Linked DNA regions of Homo sapiens. The protein of the gene in region 2 purifies or fractionates together with the protein of the main gene of each other region. This does not show direct contact. Each region holds a gene or a part of one and is shown on either strand. Other genes may lie near its edges.

Region 1 (7,000 bases), on a different chromosome or scaffold from region 2:
AGCGCCTGTAATCCCAGCTACTGGGGAGGCTGAGGCAGAGAACTGCTTGAACCCGGGAGGCGGAGGTTGCGGTGAGCTGAGATCGCGCCACTGCACCCCAGCCTGGGCAACAAGAGTGAAACTCCATCTCAAAAAAAAAAAAAAGTGCCTGAGACTTCAGCAAAGGTAGCACATATTCTGCCTGGGAGTGGAGTCGGGGAGAAGGCTGCATAGGAGCAGCTTGGCATGAAGGAGGCATGCGTGTTACCAGGTAGAGATGGAGAAGGGGCAGGGAGCAGCAGGCACTGAGGCGCCCATGCCGGTGCCGAGCACACGGGGAACAGTGAGAACTGGCAGTTTGGCTGAAGATGACCCCTGTCTGTTCCTCCCAGCGGGGGGGCCTCCTCTCTGCCAATCCTTGCCCCCTGTCTTTGTACTCACCACCACAAAGCCTGCCCTAGTGACATGGGTTAAGGCCATTTGAGACTAATAAACTCCATTTGCATTCCTTTTGCAGGCTGGTGTTTGTATGCTGCTGTTTGCGTAGCCATAGCCTGTGAGGCCCCAGAGAGCAGGACTCCCAGTTCCCCTCGCCCAGGCCAAGTGAGGCACGGACTGTGGGTGCACTCAGGGTGCAGCCGCCACTCACCCTCAGCAGCTCCTCTTCTCCCTGCTCCTTCACAAATACCTCCTCCAGCTCTTGGTTGAGCCCTTCCAGGCTCCTGTGCAGGCAGGGGCTGAGTCGCAAGACAGGGGACCCTGAGGGGAAGCTGGGAGGGGACGCCTGAGGAAGAGGCAAATGACAAAATCACACACAGCCCCACCAGGCCTAGACAGTCTTTCATTCTGACCAGGGGTAATGGTCATGTCCACACAGCAGAACTGAGTGAATGAAGGGTGATTTGGGGACAGTTACAGATTGCAATAGGTCCACTCAGGGCAGTTTTCTCCAAAAGTTTGAGCTTTGCAGAGTCTACTGTGTGCTGTAGAGTCATTGCCTCAATTATATGGGGATGGGGGTAGAAGAGAGGGAGATTCAGAACGGCAAGAAGCCCTTCCAATATCACACAGCAAGACCAAGTTTGGACTAAAACTTCACAAAGCATGCAGTGTGGTAGGGGGCTCGGCAGTTCCAAGACCCAGGAAACCTCTGCCCATATAGGGGGGCCTGCATGGAGGAGAACAGAGGGGAGAGGGCTGGGGGAGAAAACATACCCTCAGTGCTCCCCGCACTGCGTGGTCCCCTAGGAGTGGTGAACCTCGCTCCTTCTCTTTCCCACTGCGGCTCAGCTTCGTCCTCTGCAGTTGTTGCTTCAACTTGGAAATCTAGCAGCCCAGAGAGAAGACGACAGAGGCAGATTAAGGAAAGCCAAAGTGCACTGGGTCCCTCTTCCAAAGAGTGGCTCCTGGCAGAGGCCCATGAAGATATATACAAGGAGGATGGAAGTTAATCTTCCATCTCAAAATAGCTCAATGGTGTTAAAACTGTGATGATCTGTTCCTCAGACGAGTTGGATACCTCACTTAACTAGATGGATTGGATTCCAAATAATTAAAAATATACAACATGGAAACCATTTTGTCTTTTACAGATTCCAAAGGCATGGACTACCCCTCTTTTTTTTTTGAGACTGAGTCTCGCTCTCTCACCCAGGCTGGAGTGCAATGGTGCGATCTCGGCTCACTGCAACCTCCACCAGGTTCAAGCAGTTCTCTGCCTCAGCCTCCTGAGTAGCTGGGATTACAGGCACCCACCATCACCCCCAGCTAATTTTTGTATTTTTAATAGAGATGGGGTTTCACCATGTTGGCCAGGCTGGTCTTGAACTCCTTACCTCGTGATCCACCCGCCTCAGCCTCCCAAAGTCCTGGGATTACAGGCATGAGGCATTGCGTCTGGCCCTACCCCTCTATAAATAGCAATGGAAGATGATGTTTCTGAATGCTAAGGACATTCAGAGTACATTCACAACGATCTTAGAGGCCCTGAGACCAGGAAGGATGGGGATATTCTCCCTTGTTTAAAGTAGACTACACTAGGAACAGGGATAGACACTCAAGAAGGGGATATTGGATTTCATCTTGACTTTCATATCCTGAGACTACTACAGATTATCATCAACAGTTTTGAATATTATCCCATCACATGTGCAATTCTGGACCTTCTTGCCCTCAACTGGAAAATGCTCAGGGGATGAAGAGCTATTTAAATATAAGCCTAAATTAAATGGAATTCAGAGAGTAGATCTGCTACCCACAGCCATAAGATTTATGACTAGAGCCAAGAAGAAAGAGCTTTCCAATTTGCTATTGTGGGTCACTCATACCACATCTCCCCATTCTTAGTGTGAATAACTTGCTTACTCTGACCATTGAAAAGTTTAAATATTTTTTATTTCCCCCTTGTCTTAAGCTCTCAACGTATTCACTTCATATTTTCTCATTGTTCTCAGCAATAGAGGGCAGAAGCAACTTCCTCTTGTAAAGGCGTGCAGGGTGAGTCCTATCGAGTTGACCCTCTCAGAAGCTGCCACACAGCATGTCAGGAGGAGCTGATGGGGAGCCCTGGAATATTCCAGCCTACGGCTTTCTCCCCTTAACCTCAATGACTTGAGCACTCCTGAGGGAGAGGGAGGGCCAGGAAAAAGTGTTTGGGAGCATTTCGTTATTTTTCTCTTCTCTTGAAAATAAGGCTAGGGCTGGGCGTGGTGGCTCACGCCTGTAATCCCAGCACTTTGGGATGCTGAGGCTTGCAGATCACCTGAGGTCAGGAGTTCAGGACCACCCTGGCCAACACGGTGAAACCCATCTCTACTAAAAAAAAAAAAAAATTCAAAAATTAGGTGGCTGTGGTGGTGGGTGCCTGTAATCTAAGCTACTTAGGAGGCTGAGGCAGGAGAATCGCTTGAACCCAGGAGGCGGAAGTTGCAGTGAGCCGAGATCGTGCCACTGTACTCCAGCCTGGCCAGTAGAGACTCTGTTTCCAAAAACAAACAAACAAACAAAAAACTAGATGAGTAGTTAAGAAGTAAATGAGGCTGGGAGCTCCTAATTCCCAGGAACTCCCTCCCTGTCTTCCTCCAGTCTCTGAGCTGCTTATCTGGATCCAATCCCAAAGAACAATGGTGGCTCCAGCCCTGTGCTTGCTGCTGAAAGGCACTAGCAGCCTCTGGCCAAGCCCCTGCCTAGCAGGAGGGTCTGGGCTCCTAAGACCTGGCCACTTGGAGAGTGGGAGTCAGCTAGGAAGGAGCCATCTCATCAGGAAAAGGCCAGGTCAAGATAGGAGAGGTGAGCAGTGTGACGCCACCATGGAGCAGATGCATTGCATGGTACTAGGGGATCGAGAAGAAGCCGCTACCCTAGGCAGGGAGTCAAAGTGGGTAGCTACCTCTTTTCGGTGGTCTGTGCTGCCCCAGGATGCTGAGCGCTTGTGTGCACAGGAACTGGCACGCTCACCTTCTAGCTCTTGCCAGGACAGGGGCGTCTGCAGGGAGAGAAACACAGTGAGACACAGCAGCTTCTTTGGCAGGCACTGGGGAACAGGCACACTGTTTTCTGGGTAGAGGTGATGGCCCTTTGAGCCCTTCTCTCTGCTCATCAACCTCTGAACACTCCCAGTCGGTGTTCTTCTTCAGGCTTCTCCACCTGCACTCCCTCCTTCCCAGTTCATGTCCTCCAGCAAACATTCCCTGATGACCCAACAGGGCCAACCTCCTCTTTACTCTTTTCTGAGTGCTATACATATATGATATCCCAGTTATTCCAGCTGATCCTCAGTGGTGAGGACAAGTATTGCCACTCCTATCCCAACCAGCTCCAAGAGAATATAGGCTCAGGCTCCGGGAATCACTGGCACTCTTTATTCTCTCGCCCTCTACATGTGTAGCACAGGCCCAGGCTCCTGGGAGCCTAATAAAAACAAGTTAATATATAGGAGTGCATTAAGGGATTATTAACTGGTAAAACAGGAAAAAATGTCAACATAGGTCCCCTGACCAAAGCAGGGGACTCCTGTATGGTGCAGTGCTTCATTTTTCCCTGCACATGGAATAAGTGTTACTCCCCCAACCCCTGCCCCCGCTGCAAATAAGCAGGAAGGAGACATTTTCAGAAAGGAGAGAGCCACAGTTCTGAATCCAGCCCTGATTCCTGATCCCTCTTGGCCTTATCACTCCTTTTCCTCCCGGGCCTGCCCAGCCCTCATAAAAACAGGGCCCTCAGTGTGCATCTTCTCTCCCTTGCTGCACCGAAGACAGAGTGTCCAAGATGGAGGCAGGGAGAGCTGCAGGACTACTTCCTGAGCCCCGACCCAAGGGAGGAAGCTGTTGGCTCTAAGCATGAAGCCAAAGAGGCCCAGAACCCTCCCCACCACCAGTATCCCTACTTCCATTCCAAGGGAGGGGCCCAAGGGGGAACGCTCCAGTGGAACCAGTTTCTCTCTAACTTCTGTGCACAAGCACAGGCTGCCAAAAACATGAGGGCCTGGGAACTGTCTCCTCCAAGAGATCTGCTGACCTCCCCCGAGAGGTTGTTGCAAACAGAAAAGGGGGAGGACGGGGAAAAAAACCCAACTACTCGCCACCCAACAGCTGCTAAGAGGAGCTCGGCGGGGGAGTCTGAGCAAGCTTGTGAGAGCAGACGGCCGTATGTGACAGCTGCAGTGGAGAGGGGCCACTGGGGATTGGGGCTCCCTGGCTCTTCCTTCTCCCAGCTGCTCATGGATCAGCACCTTTACTGGGCCACGCAACATAGCCAGGGTGAGACAACTACCCTAACTTTCTTGTTCTGATGAGCATCACGAGTAAGTAGGTAACAGAGGAGTCTACAAATGCTAAATAAAGCATCCAGAGATCCATTTCCCCACAATTCCCTTCTTTAGGAAAAGGGCAGACAGCACATCCTTCAGGCCCAAATCTTCAGCACAAACCCTAAAGCCATATACTGGCTCTGTCAGTATATGGAAAGCTACTTCCAAATGCCCATGTCTCTCTAAACCAGGGTTCTACCAGACAAAGCCTCAGAAAAGGCTGGTGCATGCACTGAAAAGTGAGGAGGAAGCCCATCTCTCCCAGCCACCTCGACCCAGCAGACACACAAAGGATCCTCTCCTCAAGGCTCCAGGACCAACTCTAAAGATGACTACCTCTGCTAATCGAAGCTGGGCCCCGCACCCCCCACACAAACCTGTTGTCCCTGGAAGGTGGCAGAGGCTATAGAGGGATGACAAAAGCTAAAGGGACCGTTCTGCCCATTTCCCTTCCTCAGGGAAGATACTGTACTCACAGGTGGGTGGTAACAGAGAGGAAAAAACAGCCACATTCAGGCCGCCACGGGTACTACTAATATCTCTTGCAAACTCTTCAAGTACCTCTTTCTTCTGGGATATGCGAGAGGATGGAAAGAGAAATGCAGGCTAGCACAGGACTTAAAAAGGATGTGAGGCTGGGGGTGGTGGCTCATGCCTGTAATCCCAACACTTTGGGAGACTGAGGCGGGTGGATCACTTGAGGTCAAGAGTTCAAGACCAGCCTGGCAAACATGGTGAAACCCCGTCTCTACTAAAAATAGAAAAATTAACTGGGCGCCTGTAATCCCAGCTATTCAGGTAGCTGAGGCACGAGAATTGCTTGAACTCAAGAGGTAGAGGTTGCAGTGAGCTGAGATTGCACCACTGCACTCCAAGCCTGGGCGACAGAGCAAGACAGTCTCAAGAAAAAAAAAAAAAAAAAGAAAGAAAGAAAAAAGAAAAAAAAGAAAAGAAAAAGAAAGGGATGTGAAAATCATAGCAGCTAGGGTCATCTCCTCTCTCAATCCAAGTGACCCCACCTCTCTCCGCTCAGCAACGTCTTCCACCAACCACTGCCTTCTCTGTGTAAACTATACTACTAAGGCCATTTCTTTGTGTCAACACCCAACCCCTGGCCATAGAATTCACCATCTGACCCTTCATCCCACGGGCTCTCCATCCTTGGCTCTCTGTCCTCCCAAGCAAACCCATCTCCCTCTCCTTTTTCTTACCTTACCCCCAACCTCCAAGCCTGGTCTCCCGATCTAAGACGGCCTGCCCGGCCAACTATTCCCATTCTTCTTGTCAGGGAGCCTTTCCTAACTTGTCTGCCTCAGGCTGACTGCTCTTCTGCTCTGTGTCTCCTCCTTGCAGATGGGCTCTGAGTGTACAGCATTCGTGCAATCAACAAATAGTGGCTGAATGTACACTGTGTGCCCGGTACTGTTTCAGGCACTGGCCATACAACCATGTACAAAACAACACAAATACTTGTCCCGTCTGAGTTTATGTTCTTATTGGGGAGACAGTTTAAACAGTGATAAGTGCCAAGGAGAAAAATACAGCAAAGAAAAGGGATAGGAATGCTGGGTGGGGGATACAATTGGAAATGTCAGGGAGGCCCCCAATGAAAAAGTAACATCTGAATAAAAACACGAAGGAAGTGAGGGAGTGAGTCATGTGCGTATCTGAGGTAAGAGTAATCCAGACAGAGGGAACAGCCAGTGCAAAGGCCCTGTGGCGGCAATGAGCCTGGCATGTTTGAGAATGATAAAGAGGCCAGTGTGGCTGGAGCAGAGTGTGTCAGGAGATGCAGTGACAGGTTAAAAAACAGCTCCTCAAAGATGAGGAACCTATAAATGTTACCTTGTATAGTAACGTTTTTGCAGATGTATTAAGGATCTTGAGATTATCCAAGATTATCTGGGTGGACCCTAAATACCATTACAAACGTCCTTAAATAAGAAAGAGGCAGAGGGAGATTAGATGTATGCACACTGAAGAGGATAAAGCGATATGACCACAGAGGCAGAGACTCGAGTGATGTGGCTGCAAGCCAAGGAGTGCCAGCAGCCACCAGAAGCTAGAAGTGCAGGAACAGACTCTCCCCAGGAGCCTCCTGGGAGAGAATGGCCCTACCAACACCTTGATCTCAGCCCAGTGAAACAGAACTTGGACTTCTGGTCTCCAGAACTGTGAAATAATACATTTCTGTGGTATTAAGCCACTAAGTTT
Region 2 (7,101 bases):
TGCTATCATTCCACAGAGCTTGTTTTTTTAAACTATATACTACTTGTGGATCTCTTTAAAAACTAGAATATCCTAGATGATCAGAACCGTACCTTATATGTTTGATAACACTGCTCAAATACGGGCCCTAACAAATAAGACAGTAAGAAAACAGGGACACTCCCTCTAGTCCAGTAGTTAATCAAGCGCAGGGTCCTAGGCAGAATTACCCACAGTGCCATTACCAACACTCTCAGTGATAGGAAGCCATCGAAGCAAGCTAACACTACCAACCTCTGGCCACCAGAGAATACTCACATGAACCTTCCCATGACCATACCACAAGGTGATATTTCTTAAACATACCCTTAAAAAAAAAATTGAGACGAAGTCTCACTCTGTCGCAGTGGCACGATCTCAGCCCACTGCAACGTCCGCTTCCAGGGTTCCAACAATTATCCTGCCTCTGCCTCCCAAGTACCTGGGACTACAGACACTCACTACTGCACCTGGCTAATTTCTGTATCTGTAGTAGAGATGGGGGTTTCACCATTTTAGCCAGGCTGGTCTCGAACTCCTGACCTCGTGATCCACTCGCCTTGGCCTCCCAAAGTGCTGCGATTACAGGCATGAGCCACTGCGCCTGGCCTAAACATACCCTTCATTTTTCTCAGTAAAGGGCACATGGACTGTGTTCTTCCCTCCTTTCCAAAACATTCTTAGTGCAGGCATCATTCTGATTTCTGGACTGACACCTGCACTAAGCAGCTGTTCTCCCCTTTGACCACTCCCAGTGGAACTCCTCCCAGCACTCAGACTCTCTCTTCTCTCTGCCAAGCCATTCTGTCATTCTGTTCTTCATCTCCTCGTCTGCTTGTGGGGCCTGCGGTTTCAGGTTTATATTGGTATAGGAAGAGGGGGGCTTGGCGGGCCAAAAGGCAACTTTTGGGTGCAAAAACAGGCATGCCTGTTCCAATTTAGGGCTATGGGTTTTCAGGCTAGATCTAATAATAATAACTGATACAAATAAAGTGTTAACCTCATAACAGGTAAAGAATATTCCTCCAGGGCTGGGTGTGGTGGCTCACACCTATAATCTCAACACTTCGGGAGGCCAAGGTCAGGAGTTGGAGACCAGTCTGACCAACATAGTGAAATCCCGTCTCTACTAAAAATAACAAAAAATTAGTCGGGTATGTGACAGGCACCTGTAATTCCAGCTACTCGGGAGGCTGAGGCAGGAGAATTGCTGGAACCCGGAAGGCGGAGGTTGCAGTGAGCCGAAATTGTGCCACTGCACTCCAGCCTGGGTGACAAAAGTGAAACTCCATCTCAAAAAAAAAAAAAAAAAAAAAAAGTAATATTCCTCTAGGAATATTCTAATTTTAAAATTTTAAACTAGAGAATTCCAGATTTTATCTTAATCTAATGAAATGAATTCCAACAGTGAAAATTACAAGCAACCTAAAAGGAAAGTAGTAATTTGAGGACAAGAACTACCTTTGTTCCTTCTAATCATGTCAAGTAAGTAGCTGCCTATACATCTATTCTAATGCTGTATATACATTGCCCACAATAGTGCTGATACTAACAAAACCTTACTTAAAACCTTCAGCTTTTCACCTTTAAATATTCACTTAACCTTTAAACATTCACTTGAGTATTTAAATATTCACATTATTTTTCTATAGGGCAAAAAGGACAACTGGGCCAACCATTCACTAGACATAAGCTCCCACATTAAAAGCCACATACTTACTTTAAGATGATAACTATTCCTATAAAATCCCACTGCACTCTGTACACCTTGTCCTTTATTCCCTCTTCTGTAGAAAGAACAAAGAACGAAGAGTCAGGAAAAACAATGCTAGTCCCAGGCCTGCTTATTCTGAGGCACTGATTAGTCACTCAGCTTCTCTGCACCCACTTCCTTCTCTAATATGTGAGAAATGAACTTTATTGGTGTTTCTCAAAATGTTCCTACTGCATCAGGATTACCTGGAGTCCTTAAGAAAACAGATTCCAGCTAGGCCCAGTGGCTCAAGCCTGTAATCCCAGCACTTTGGGAGGCCAAGGCAGGCGGATCACGAGGTCAGGAGATTGAGACCATCCTGGCTAACACAGTGAAACCCCGTCTCTACTAAAAATACAAAAAAATTAGCCAGGCGTGGTGACAGGCGCCTGTGGTCCCAGCTACTTGGGAGGCTGAGGCACAAGAATGGCGTGAACCCAGGAGGCGGAGCTTGCAGTAAACCGAGATCGCACCACTGTACTCCAGCCTGGGCGACAGAGCGAGACTCTGTCTCAAAAAAAAAGAAAGCAGATTCCAGAGCATCACTCTAAACCTACAGAAAGAGAGGCATCTGAGCTTGGAAATCTCTTAACTTTGACAAGTTCTCCAGAAGACTGTTTGGGAACCATTAGTTTTCCCAAGTCTGTACTAGAGCTAATAATATTTCATAGTTTAAGGGAATCTTAGATATTTATATTTCTCTTTTTTCAAATCCACAGGAATTCAAGAGGAACATACTAGATAGTAAATGTACGTTTAAATATCTCTGCTATCATCCTTCTTGCAGTGTTCGGTGACTCAAATCTTTATGACATCCTGACAACATGCGAGTGTTATTGTAGCATTGTTTGCTGAGGGTATGAGCAAGAAGACATTCAGTTGGTCCAGTGGACTATTAACACTAAATGCAAAAGCTCAGATTTCAAATATTGCTTACGTGATACAAGCACAGCAATCAAGAACCATGTTTCTATCAGAAAATAAAGCGTCAGTAAAATAACTGTTATTAGACCCAAAATCCCTTCACTACTAAAAGTATAGCTACATTTTTCTAATCTGACCACTTACTTATATTTTGCATAACGGTCTATTTGAATTCACATACCATAGTTTAAAAAATTAATGATTAAATACAGAAAATAAACTTATTAACTAATGCAATCCATTGTATTTTCAAAGTCTATTTCTGGAAGCTTCTCCCAAAACATTTTGAAGTGTAACAGGCAATGTTTAATCATCCCCCATTCTCCCCTTCTTCAGTAGACCCAAATTTTCAGCCAAATAGTCACCTATCAAAGACCACATATCCCAGACTCCTTTGTATCTAAACATGGCCACATGACTAAGTTATGACCAATAGGGTATGAAGAAAAATCATGTATGCAACTTCCAGGTTTGTCTTTAAAGGGATGGAATGTGCCTTCCCAAAATCCTATTCCTGGACTGTGGATGTAGTGAGAAACTGCCTTGTACTATGAAGAAAATGGTAAGCACAGGAAAGCAACAAGACAGAAGGAACCAAGCTCCCTCACATCGTGGTGCCACCATATCAGCCTTAGATAAGTTATACTGTTGTTTTATGAAGGAAAAATAAATTTCTCGTTTAAGCCACTGTATTTAGTCAGAAACAGGCCCATCTACATTCTAACTGGTACATATAAGAAAGCTTAAATTTATCGTAACTCTTAAATATTAGCTACCAACCAACTCAGCAAAGCTAAAATTCTATACTCTTAAGTCACAATAGAGCTTCCTACTGAATAACCCCATTACTGAGATTATTGCTACTGTGCCATTTTATATTTATATGGCATTTTACACTTCAGCACTTCATTATAGTGTCTCATTTCACATTCTCAAAATCCTGGGCAGGGCAGCCGGTGCTATCTATATCTGGCATACAGGATACTGAAGCGAGGAGAAGCTGTTTTGCCCAAGATGACATGGCTAAGGAGTGGTAGTCAGGAAGGATTCAACATACAGGTTCCGCATTCTATCATTCTATGAATCTAAACCCCCTATGTGCCAGGCACTGGAGTTACAGCCATGATCAAGAAAAACTTCTTCCTGTCCAAATGGACTTTAAAATTTAATGGAGAAATTAAATTTACAATTATATTAAATGAAATTTAATGAACAATTATATATAAGAACATATATGAATAATCATATTTGCAGTAAGGGTTGCAAAGAAAAACAAATGGTCCTGCTTGGCCAAAAAAAAGAATGCATGGCCAAGGAAGACTACCTGGTTTGGGGAAGGCCTCTCTGAAGAAAATATTTATGCTAGGATCACAGAATGAGCATGAATGAAGATGAGGAGAGAAAAAAGGAGGAGAAAGAAATCCATGAAGAAATGTACATGCATTATCTCAATTTTCACAAGATTCCTATGCTAATTACTATCAACCTCATTTTACAGATGAGGGAACTGATGTTTGGTGAAATCACTGTACCTAAAGTCACACAGCCAACAGAACCTGTTGAGACTCAGATCAGCCAGATTCTGGAGCCTCTGTTCATGGTTTCATGGGCAGGGGATCTTTCCACAGTATCATGCTGCCTCAACTGCTGTCTATAACTGGATAGCAAGCAGACAGACAGATGTCACAGTTCAAACCTTTTTTTTTTTTTTTGAGACAGTGCTCCACTCTGTCACCCAGGCTGGAGTGCAGTGACACAATCTCAGCTCACTGCAACCCCCCACCTCCCAGGCTCAACTGATCCTCCCACCTCAGTCTCCTGAGTAGCCTGGACTACAGGTGGCACTAACACACCTGTTTTTTTTTTGTTTTGTTTTGTTTTTTGAGACAGGGTTTCACCATGTTGCCCAGGCTGGTTTCGAACTCCTGGCCTCAAGTGATCCGCCCACCCTGGCCTCCCAAAGTGCTGAGATTACAGGTGTGAGCCACCACGCCAGGCCTCAAGCATCTTTTTACCCAAATACATGGGTGCCAAGATGCAAGCCTTAACCATACATGTCCATAACATTTTACGGACATGCAAAAGCTTTTGTGAAAAACCCAGAAGAGAAAATGCATAGCTCTGGTAGAAGAACCAACTGCCAAGATGTCGAAATGGCTCTATATTATCAAATAATATAGATAATGATAATACGGAAAAGCTTTTTGTGAAAGCTTTTTTAAAAATTAAAAAATCAAATCTTGTCATTGGAAATGTTATACACTCAAGAAAAATTAGGGGGTTATTTAATGAACAGGGATGTTATTTAAAATAGAGTTGATGCTGAAAGCCAGTTTCATTCTATGTTAAGCCAGTTCACTGGGCCCCCCCCAAAAATCAATTAAAACAAACTTTTCTAACATGGGGAGATAAAACAAGAATATTCACTGACAAGAACAAAGACACATTTTAAGCTATTACTCACTATGTATCAGATATGAGCATCTGCCCCAAACCAAAAAAAAATTATGTAACTTGTCAAAACCTAGTTTTAACAGTAATACAAACTTTTAAATATCGCTTTCTAGAAGAGAAGATACATAGCTCTGGTATAAGAACCAATTGCCAAGACACCAAAATGGTTCTACATTAGCAAAACATATATGCCCAAAAGAAACCACACCATTTCACGTGTTCAACGTAGGGTATTATCACCAATAAACAATTCTCACTCGTTTTAGTACTCTGGAAGTAGGATTTCAAAGCAAAAGCTTAACTTTTTAAATACCTAGCTGGCTTACGCAGTGCAATATTTCCAAATCATTTTGTTTCCATATAAAAAAATAATAATCAAACTAAGGCTGCTGGTAGCCAGTATTAACAAATAAGATCTTTCTTCAATTACCCAATATGAACGAACCTTCAATGATTATTTTAGTCACATGAAGTCTACATTTCACTTTCAAACACTCTATGGTAAACTTTACAACTCTAGCTTAAAATTGTAGCACTGACATAAGGCAAGATTTCAAAAAGCTTTCTTCATTTGGGAGCAACTGAGGAGAAATTTTAGGTAATTTAATATAATTTGCTGATTTTTCCAAGTAATTAAACACAAATTTTAACTCTCCAAACTTTTTAATCCAAAGTTGAGCAAGCTTTGGGTCATAAATTACCACCTCTCTAGCCATCAGAAAATTGCCCAACAGTCAAGATAACATCTGGTAAAAAGTCTTTTAAAAGGCAAAACCACCATATATACATAAGGTGCTATTACACTGGTCACACAATTCACTTTCACAGAGCAAACTGTTAGTATCAAGTTTCAGGAAACATTACTAATAGTTTCACGTAATATCTTTACTTCTAAATCGAAAATAGACGAACATATATGGAGGTAAAATCACCAAAACACTCAACAGAAAGTAAAGATTCTTGGTTCAGTTTAAATAACTGCTTATGATTACTACAAAATAAGACTAACACAACTTTGGGGATGAGGAACTAAATTCTTGATAAAGACTTTCTGGAAGTTTTTGGGTTTTGCTGGGTTTAGATAAGTTTTTTCTTGGGGAGGGGTGAAACTGCTTCCTGTGTGTGTACAGGAAACGTGAAAGCCTTCTCAAATATGAGGAAAGCTAATGCCAAAGCAAAGACAAACTGGCACACGCCTAATCACAAATACCAAGAAAGTCACAAGTGAAGCCCACTCTTCTACTAATCTTGTGTTCAGTGGCACAAGATTATAAGGCAATTCCCTTCTCGCCTATAATACAGTTAATTCTATCCACATTTTCTTCTCATAACTAGATACTTGTCAACCATAAACAGACACACGAAAACACCTCAGGGCAGCCTAAATTTCCAAGCTATTTCTTAAAAAAAAAAAAAAGGTTTTCAAGTGAAAACAAAGATTCAATCCAAATTAACACTTCGTGTAGTTACAAAACAAAATGCATGCCAAAGGTCACTGTATACCATGTTTATAACAAGGTATCTTGAATTTTCCTTTTGCAGATAGTCATAGCCCTCTAAAAACCTAATGTAAATTACCTAAATACATTGTTGCAGTTACCTAGGCCTCTCCACCCCCATATCTTTAAGTCATAAACAGTAACTCTCCATAAGTAACACGAAGGAGCAAACATCAGACAATATTTTGGAGGGGAAAAAAAATTTAACAAATGGTCGTTTTTACTGTCCACATTCCCTAACAAGACATTACACTAATATGGAATGTTTTAAATTATCTTAAATGTTACTGCCTCTAAAAAACTGGACTTATTTTTAGATATCTTGCACACAATAATGTGTTAAGTTTCTAATAGGTTCCACCAAAATATTGTTAAAAGGTTTAAGAGATGATCTTATACTTAGATCTCAAAACAAAGATCTCACTAGGTCATTTAGTCCATTTCCCACCCCTA
Region 3 (7,380 bases), on a different chromosome or scaffold from region 2:
ATATAATAGTCTCGTCTACTTAATTATCATTTATTTTCAGTTCCTTTACACAGGTCTCTTGAGAATAGCTCTTCTTAATAGTGAGATAGAACTAAATACCAATCAGCAGATGTCACTCCTTAAGTGATCCTCTTCAGTTTTCTCTGTTTATTTCAGTTGTCCTTTTTTTTTCAATGCCTTTTCTCCATTGCCAATTCTATTTTCCTTCTTTTGGAGATAGGTTCCCACTCTGTCACCCAGGCTGTAGTGCAGTGGCACAATCATAGCTCACTGTAACCTCAAACTACTGGGCTCAAGCGGTCCTCTGCCTCAGCCTTGCCAGTAGTTGGGAATATGCCTGGCCCCCATTTTCCATTTTCATCCTCTGATGAGCCTCCAGGAGCCAGTAGGTCTAACAACCATAATGCAAGGTATTCTATCTTTTTGAATGGCAGCTTCAATACAAATATCTGTGTGGTTTACAGTAGCCACATCAGATATTTTTCTACTCTGCGACTAGGCTTTTGTAGCAGAGATACACCTGTTAGATTTTTTTTCCTGAGGAAAAGCACAAGTTTTAGTTCATAAGATAAACACTGGCTAAAATTTGCCACTCTTAACAACATTAAACAAATATTTATTGATCATCTACCATATACTAAGCACTGTTGTAGAGATTCAGCAGTTATAAAACTGATAAAAAGTCTTCACTTCATGGCTGTTCTATTCTAGACAGACAAAACAAAAAATAATTATAATATATTATGGTTTGGTTGCTGATAAGTACTCTGCAAAAAGAGTAGGATAAAGAGCAGGAAAAGCCGAGGGGTGCTTACAATTTTTAAAAAAGTGTTCAGGAAAGCTCTCATCATAAAGGTGGTGACATTTGAGTAAAGACCTGATGGAAATGAGTGAGCAAGCCATGTGGATATCTGGGCAAGAACCTTTCAGGCAGAGGGAACACCTAGTGCAAAGGTGCACGTAGGCTGTCACAAGCAGTAAGGAGTTTAATTTAAGCATCTGCCAGGGACAAAAATTCAGTCAAGGCTTTTTTGTTGTTGTTGCTATTAGGAATCAATCTACAAGAGAGTTTAATCAGCTTAAGATGAACATCAGTGCAGATCTGTTTAGTGTTCTCTCCCAGCCATGACCTCATTGCAAATACTGACAGCCTGGACTGCCTCTCAGATTTGGATGGGCCTTGGATGCTCAGCCAGGCAAACCCAGATGGAGCTAGAAGAGGAAGGTTTTGGTAGCTCTGTGGGCTCTGTGGCTTCTTCATCTTATGATCTCTCCACATAGGGCTGCATATAAATCGCATGTAACCAATGATTCCAAGTTTTAATTTAACCTAAAATGTAGTCTATTACCATATTTGCACTAAGAAGAAAGTAGAACAGAATTCTACCTCAGATTAGCTAATGGCAGATCCTCGTCCCACAGATAGCCATGGCATGGGGCTACTGATACAGAAGTATTTCTCATGCCACCAAATTGTGCCTTCAATTTTGTCTTCTTTACACAGGACAACATAGTAAGAGGTCATTGTTAACATTAAGTCTTATATAAGATTTTCAGAGATTGTTACACTTACATTCAACCAGTATGGAAAATCGGCACTAGGCCTAACTACCCCATAGCTAGCATAGTAGCATAACAACGCTCTTCTAGCCTAGCAATCCACATCTCATTCTAGGGGGTTTCCAATTTACTAAGAACATTTTCTTAAAGCTTCTATATATCCTTGGAGCTTACTTTGTCCTCAATAAGAATAAAATATTATCAAGAACTCAACAAATGGACATTTGAAAGCAGGCACTGAGTTTAATTTATTTTAGGCCACCTTTGATTTGTTTGAAGCCTGTATTCCTTAAATATGAAGATCAGTACTTACGTCGTGAGAATAAAGGTTTAAGAGACAACCAAGGTTTCTATAGCAAAGAGAAACGACTGAGCTTCTAGATTGGTCATAATGACTTACTAGTAACTGAAAATAGTATTTTAAGATCATACTAATTCTCTGTTTCTCTGTGTGAGTTATTTAGATTTGCTTTAGATGTCTAAGTCAGCTGTGGTAGATTTGAACAAACACAGAAAGTCCTTAAAATATGACTAGGTATGTTGCTTTAGATCCAAATTAGGTATTGATCATTGTGATTGTGACCTAGAATAAATTTAGAATTATTGTAACCTAATGTGTTGAAGTTGTTCCATAAATATATTTAGGAGTAGCTAGAGATGACATTTCTATAATGCAACTATGCTGTAATCAAAGCAACAACTCAGAAATTTACCAGCATGTAAAAGAAAAATCTTAACTTTTTTTCTTCTTCTTCTTCTTTTTTTTTTTTTTTTTTTTTTTTTTGAGACAGGGTGTCATTCTGTCACCCAAGCTGGAGTGCAGTGGTGTGATCAAGGCTCACTGCAGCCTTGATCTCCCGGCCTTTTGGGCTCAGGTGATCCTCCCACCTCAGCCTCCCTAACCGCGTCCAGCTAGTATTTTTACATTTTTAGTAGAGATGGGGTTTTGCCATGTTGCCCAGACTGGTTTCAAAATCCTGAGCTCAAGTGATCCGTCTGCCTTGGCCTCCCAAGGAGCTGGGATTACAGGCGTGAGCCACCGCACCTAGCCAGCTTTACATATTTTTAATCTGTCAGATTTTTTGTTCTTGCTATTCTGAGAAAAGTCACTGAAAAGAAATCATTTATCATTCTTTTTACACACAAAATAATGCAGTTTTTAAATTAATGAGATAGGCCATTTATATAAAATTTGAAAGAGTAAAGTTTTTATTCATAATTAAAATATATGTTATTCTGGAAAACAAAAAAAAAGTAGTGGTCTGTCTTCATTTGTAAAATTTCCTTTGAACTGATGGGAACTTATCTCACAGATGAGATTTGTGGGCCATTGTGAATACTCTACAGATTATGTACCCCACAGCTTTGAGCTGCCAGGTACTATAGCAGAGTGCTTCCTCAGACTCTTGAGCCAGTCTGTCTGGGTGAAATTTTTAGCTCCCCATATACTAACTATGTGATCTCAGGCAAGACAGCTTATTTATGCCACAACTGAGACCACAGTAAGGATAATAATAGTATCTACCTTGTGGATTATATGAGGACTGAATGAATTAACACACATAATGTTCTTAGAATAGCGGCTGGCACATGGTGAATAAATGTTAGCTCTTATTATAATATGTGGTAAACTGAGGAACTATCACTAGTTTTACTTGGATGAAGTACTGCATGAAATTTTTGTATTTTTATTGAGTTTCATCAATTTTTTTACTGAACCTAGTATGCTTTCTCGTCTGAACACACAAGGAAGAAAAGAAGGATGGCTCCTGTACGTGAAAGTGACCCCTGCATATAGTGCCTGAAATCAGAGGAAGCTTGTCAGTGTGGGCAGACACCACGAGCAGACCAATTTGACATTGTGCTTCTCTTTTAACCTCTTGAAAATTAATGAAAGTTATCTGATGAAGATCCTTACATTAATTGCTCCCGATTAAGGTTTAAAACCTTGGTTTACTGTGGGGTAAATTTATGTTTTTGATAGTCATCCAAAATCTTTGTACGCTTTCAGTTTCATTACAGAATAAAAAACAAATTTACCACAATGGATTATTACATTACATCTGGTATTTATTCCTCCCAAGAAGCTATCTGCTTCGGAAAAGCCAGGGGCGCCCTTCATTAATATATCTAACTGATGGTGTAATGACATAAAATTCCTTGTTGACCCCTGCTATTCAGTGTTATTGTCTTGGAACATAGAACTTGATAATCTCTTTTCACTGCATAACTACAAATGTTAGGCTGTAAGAGTATTTTACTTTGTTCAGTGCAGGTTCCAGACATTTCTCCTGATCACCAGAAGTTCTTTTGATTAATAAGGCTACTGGTCACGAAAACTCAGCTTACTAAAAGAGATCCAGTCTTCTGGTTCTAACTAAAACATCCCACCGGATGCAGGTGTACTTGCAAATTAAAGTTTGCCTCATGTGTCCTGTGTCTCAAGTCATACAGACGGCCCAGGAGGGTGGAGCCCCTGCAACCTGCCTAGCGGGGCGTTTGCGTGTCTGGGGGTGTCGGGACACGCGCAGGACACACACAGTCCCACTTTCCTAGTCTCGCACTTACCTCAAGGCTGTCAACTTTTACGCTCCTCCCTGCGCGCACAGCCCCCACCTCACGCTGCCACCCCTCACGCCCCGCCTTCAAAGTAGGAGGCACCATTGTCATTGGACACTGCTTCTCTCACTCCTATTCCAGAACCAATCACTCGAGTTCTAGTGGGGAGCGCCTAAGCCAATGGAAATGCTCGCTGCGGCAGCTGCCGGGTCCTGGGCGCTGGGAGGCGGTGCCGGGGGCGGGGTGCGGCTGGGGCGAATTAGTTGCCATTCGGAGTGAGGAGTGGGTAGAAGCGGCGGCGGCGGCGGCGGCGTTTGCGGTGGCGCGGACTCCGAGGAGCGCCAGCACCTCGAGGCCCTTTCTCTCTACCCTGGTCCCCAGAAGCAGGGGTCCCGGCCCTCCTTGCAGCTGCCGGGTTCTCCCGTGCGTGCAGCCCTGCGAGGGCTGAGGAGAAGGCTGCGAGCGGCCCTCGGGGCTGCGTGATCCGGGCCGTTGCCCTGTCAGCACGATGCCTGGAGCGGTGGCGGCGGCGGCTCCGGGCTCCTTGCGGCCCCGGCCGTGACCGCCACACCGAGCCCAGCCGGGCGGTTGCGGCCGTTGGACGTTTGTTTTCGCAGCCTTCCCCTCCCCCCTCGCCGAGGCGGCGGGGGTGTGCGTTGGGGAGGGGGAGCCCCGAGACTCCTCCCCCACAGCGATACCCCCGCCCCTCCCCCTTACACACTCGCACGCACTATCGCGCCGGCTCCCACACGCTCGCGCGCCTCCCGCCCCGCGCCTCCGTGTCGGCCGGCGGCGTCCAGGGCCCGCAGAGCCACCATGTCCACTGCCTCCTCCTCCTCCTCCTCCAGTTCCTCTCAGACCCCTCATCCCCCGTCGCAGAGGATGAGGCGCAGCGCCGCGGGGTCCCCGCCCGCCGTCGCCGCCGCCGGGAGCGGGAACGGTGCGGGCGGCGGCGGCGGCGTGGGCTGCGCCCCGGCTGCGGGAGCCGGCCGGCTGCTGCAGCCCATCCGCGCCACGGTGCCCTACCAGCTCTTGCGGGGCAGCCAGCACAGTCCCACGCGTCCGCCCGTCGCCGCTGCCGCCGCCTCGCTGGGCAGCCTCCCGGGGCCCGGCGCGGCCCGCGGCCCCAGCCCGTCCAGCCCGACGCCGCCGGCGGCCGCAGCCCCGGCCGAGCAGGCGCCGCGGGCCAAGGGCCGCCCGAGACGGTCCCCAGAGAGCCACCGGAGGAGCAGCTCACCTGAGAGACGGAGCCCCGGCTCGCCCGTGTGCAGAGGTAGCGAGCCCAACCCTCCCGTCCTCCCGGGCTGCGTCTCCCCGACGGTGCCCTCCGTGGAAACTTCAGCCTCTTCGGGCTTCTCTTTGCTAGTGCATTATCGAAGGTGTGAAAGTGGCTTTGGGAATCTCACCCCCCTGCGGTCGCTGTGGGGCTTGGAGGAGCGAACTGAAAAGCGACTTTTATTTGACCCTCATGCCGCCCCTCAGAGTCTCTCTTCCATCACTCGCCTGCTTCGAGAGGTTTTTCAGTTTAAGAGCTGGCTAGCTCATTCGTGTGTTTGCCGTTTGTAGCCGGGGAAGGAGAAGCTGGGCGAAACACTTAACACGCACACAAACTCTTCAGCAGCGGATAAGGTGGCGGTTGTAATCTCTACCGTCTCTTTGTGCTTTTCTGCAAAGTTCCTAACGTGCCTGTAACTACCGGGATAGTATTTTATTTTTTAGAGGGTTGGTGGCATTAGTTTCGATGTAAGGATATCGGCTGGATGTAATGATATCTGCTAGAGGGGACAGTTTTGAATGTACAATTGAAGTGTATACGGTTTTTTCCCTCAGTCCTCCCTCTCTCCCTCTCCCCCAGCCCCCCGCCACCCCGCCTCTCTCTCTCCCTCTCTTTCTCCCCCTCCCCTTTATATATTCATGCATCAGAGCACTCCTGCACTGGAAACAGTTTGTGCTCTACCGGAGATTTTCATGGTAAATTTCTGAAAACTTATTTGTGGAACGTGTTCGTTTTTTTCCTTCCATTTTTAAGTACACTTAACAGTTCAGTTGAGCTGTTCAAGGATCTCAAGTTTCTTTTTTTGTTAGGTGTCAAAGGTAATGGTGAGCTGGTGGATGCTGTGGGTTTCCCTTAGTGTTTTCTGTTTTGCTTTGGTTTTGTTTATGTCTAGGGACACAGTGCATGATTTAGTTGAGCCCTGGGGGAGAAAAGGAAGATTAGCCAAAACAGGGACTTAAAGCTCATAAGGGAGAGTGGAATAGCTAATATTGTTAGATACCGAACTAGAGCTACAGATGCTGCTGCTGCATTGTGGAGGGAACAGATCATACTGGGTGGAAAAATCTCTGCTTGGAAGGGAAACACTGTCAAAGTCTGTACATTGTTTATGTGGTATGTGGAATTTTTTTTTTTAATGGAGCTTTCTTGATGAAGGTGTTAGAGTTGGAGAAAGTGGTTGTCTGCATTATGATACATTGCAGTCTTGGTGTTTTTGTTTTAATATTTCAGACCCGTAATTAGCATGTTGCTAACGCACTTGTTTTCTGACCACTTGATGGTGAACCAGTGTAGGATGTAGTGCAGTGGGATGAGTACATGAGCAGCAAGAAATACATCCTGTAATCTGTATGCATTGGGAGGAATATGCTCCTGCACTCCTCCCCCAGGTCAAGCCAGCTGCTGCAGAAACTGACATCCTCCAGCAAATCCTGAATGAATGAATGAAAACAACGTGATCGCCCTAATAATGACCACAACTGAACACACATCTTTGGCTGTATTTTATAGAAAAGGCCACCATTTTCTAACAGATTAATGCCATATGCAACTCCTTTGCACATTTTCTAGAACTGTATGAAATGAGAAGTAACAGAACGAACAGAAAACAGTTACATAAATTTTTTAGTGATTTCGCTTCAACAGTGCACAAATTGAGTTTTGGGATTTTCTTGTAGGGACTAAGAGGCATAAAATAAGCATTGCAGATTGTGTACAGAGGGTCTGGTGGGTGTGAGTAAGAGAAGTTTCGGCAATTGCTGCAACAACATAATGGCCATCTAGTACCTCCTCCCCTTTTGTATATAAACACTAACATCTTACAACGGATAATAGTACAACTTGTTTTTCTGCATCCTTCAAAAGGCTTAATGGCCTAGGAATTACATGCTCCATCATCAAGCAGTTTTAATAAAATTTGTGATCTGGCTTAAACTATTCTCTTTGTTGTAGTGTGGCACATACGAGTTTAATGCGATTTTAATGCA

The links.
Region 1: the proteins of DYRK1A (region 2) and FAM117A purify together in Homo sapiens (affinity purification with mass spectrometry; 4 studies listed by BioGRID and IntAct, with this or other methods). This does not show direct contact.
Region 3: the proteins of DYRK1A (region 2) and GLCCI1 purify together in Homo sapiens (affinity purification with mass spectrometry; 8 studies listed by BioGRID and IntAct, with this or other methods). This does not show direct contact.

What each region holds. Positions count from the first base shown.
Region 1 is NC_000017.11:49,719,132-49,726,131, forward strand, and holds part of FAM117A (protein FAM117A), read right to left. Parts: intron 3,464-7,000; coding exon 3,368-3,463; intron 1,306-3,367; coding exon 1,195-1,305; intron 764-1,194; coding exon 629-763; intron 1-628.
Region 2 is NC_000021.9:37,369,755-37,376,855, reverse strand, and holds part of DYRK1A (dual specificity tyrosine-phosphorylation-regulated kinase 1A), read right to left. Parts: intron 1-7,101. UniProt on the Homo sapiens protein: Dual-specificity kinase which possesses both serine/threonine and tyrosine kinase activities. Exhibits a substrate preference for proline at position P+1 and arginine at position P-3.
Region 3 is NC_000007.14:7,964,416-7,971,795, forward strand, and holds the start of GLCCI1 (glucocorticoid-induced transcript 1 protein), read left to right. Parts: upstream 1-4,380; 5' UTR 4,381-4,935; coding exon 4,936-5,392; intron 5,393-7,380.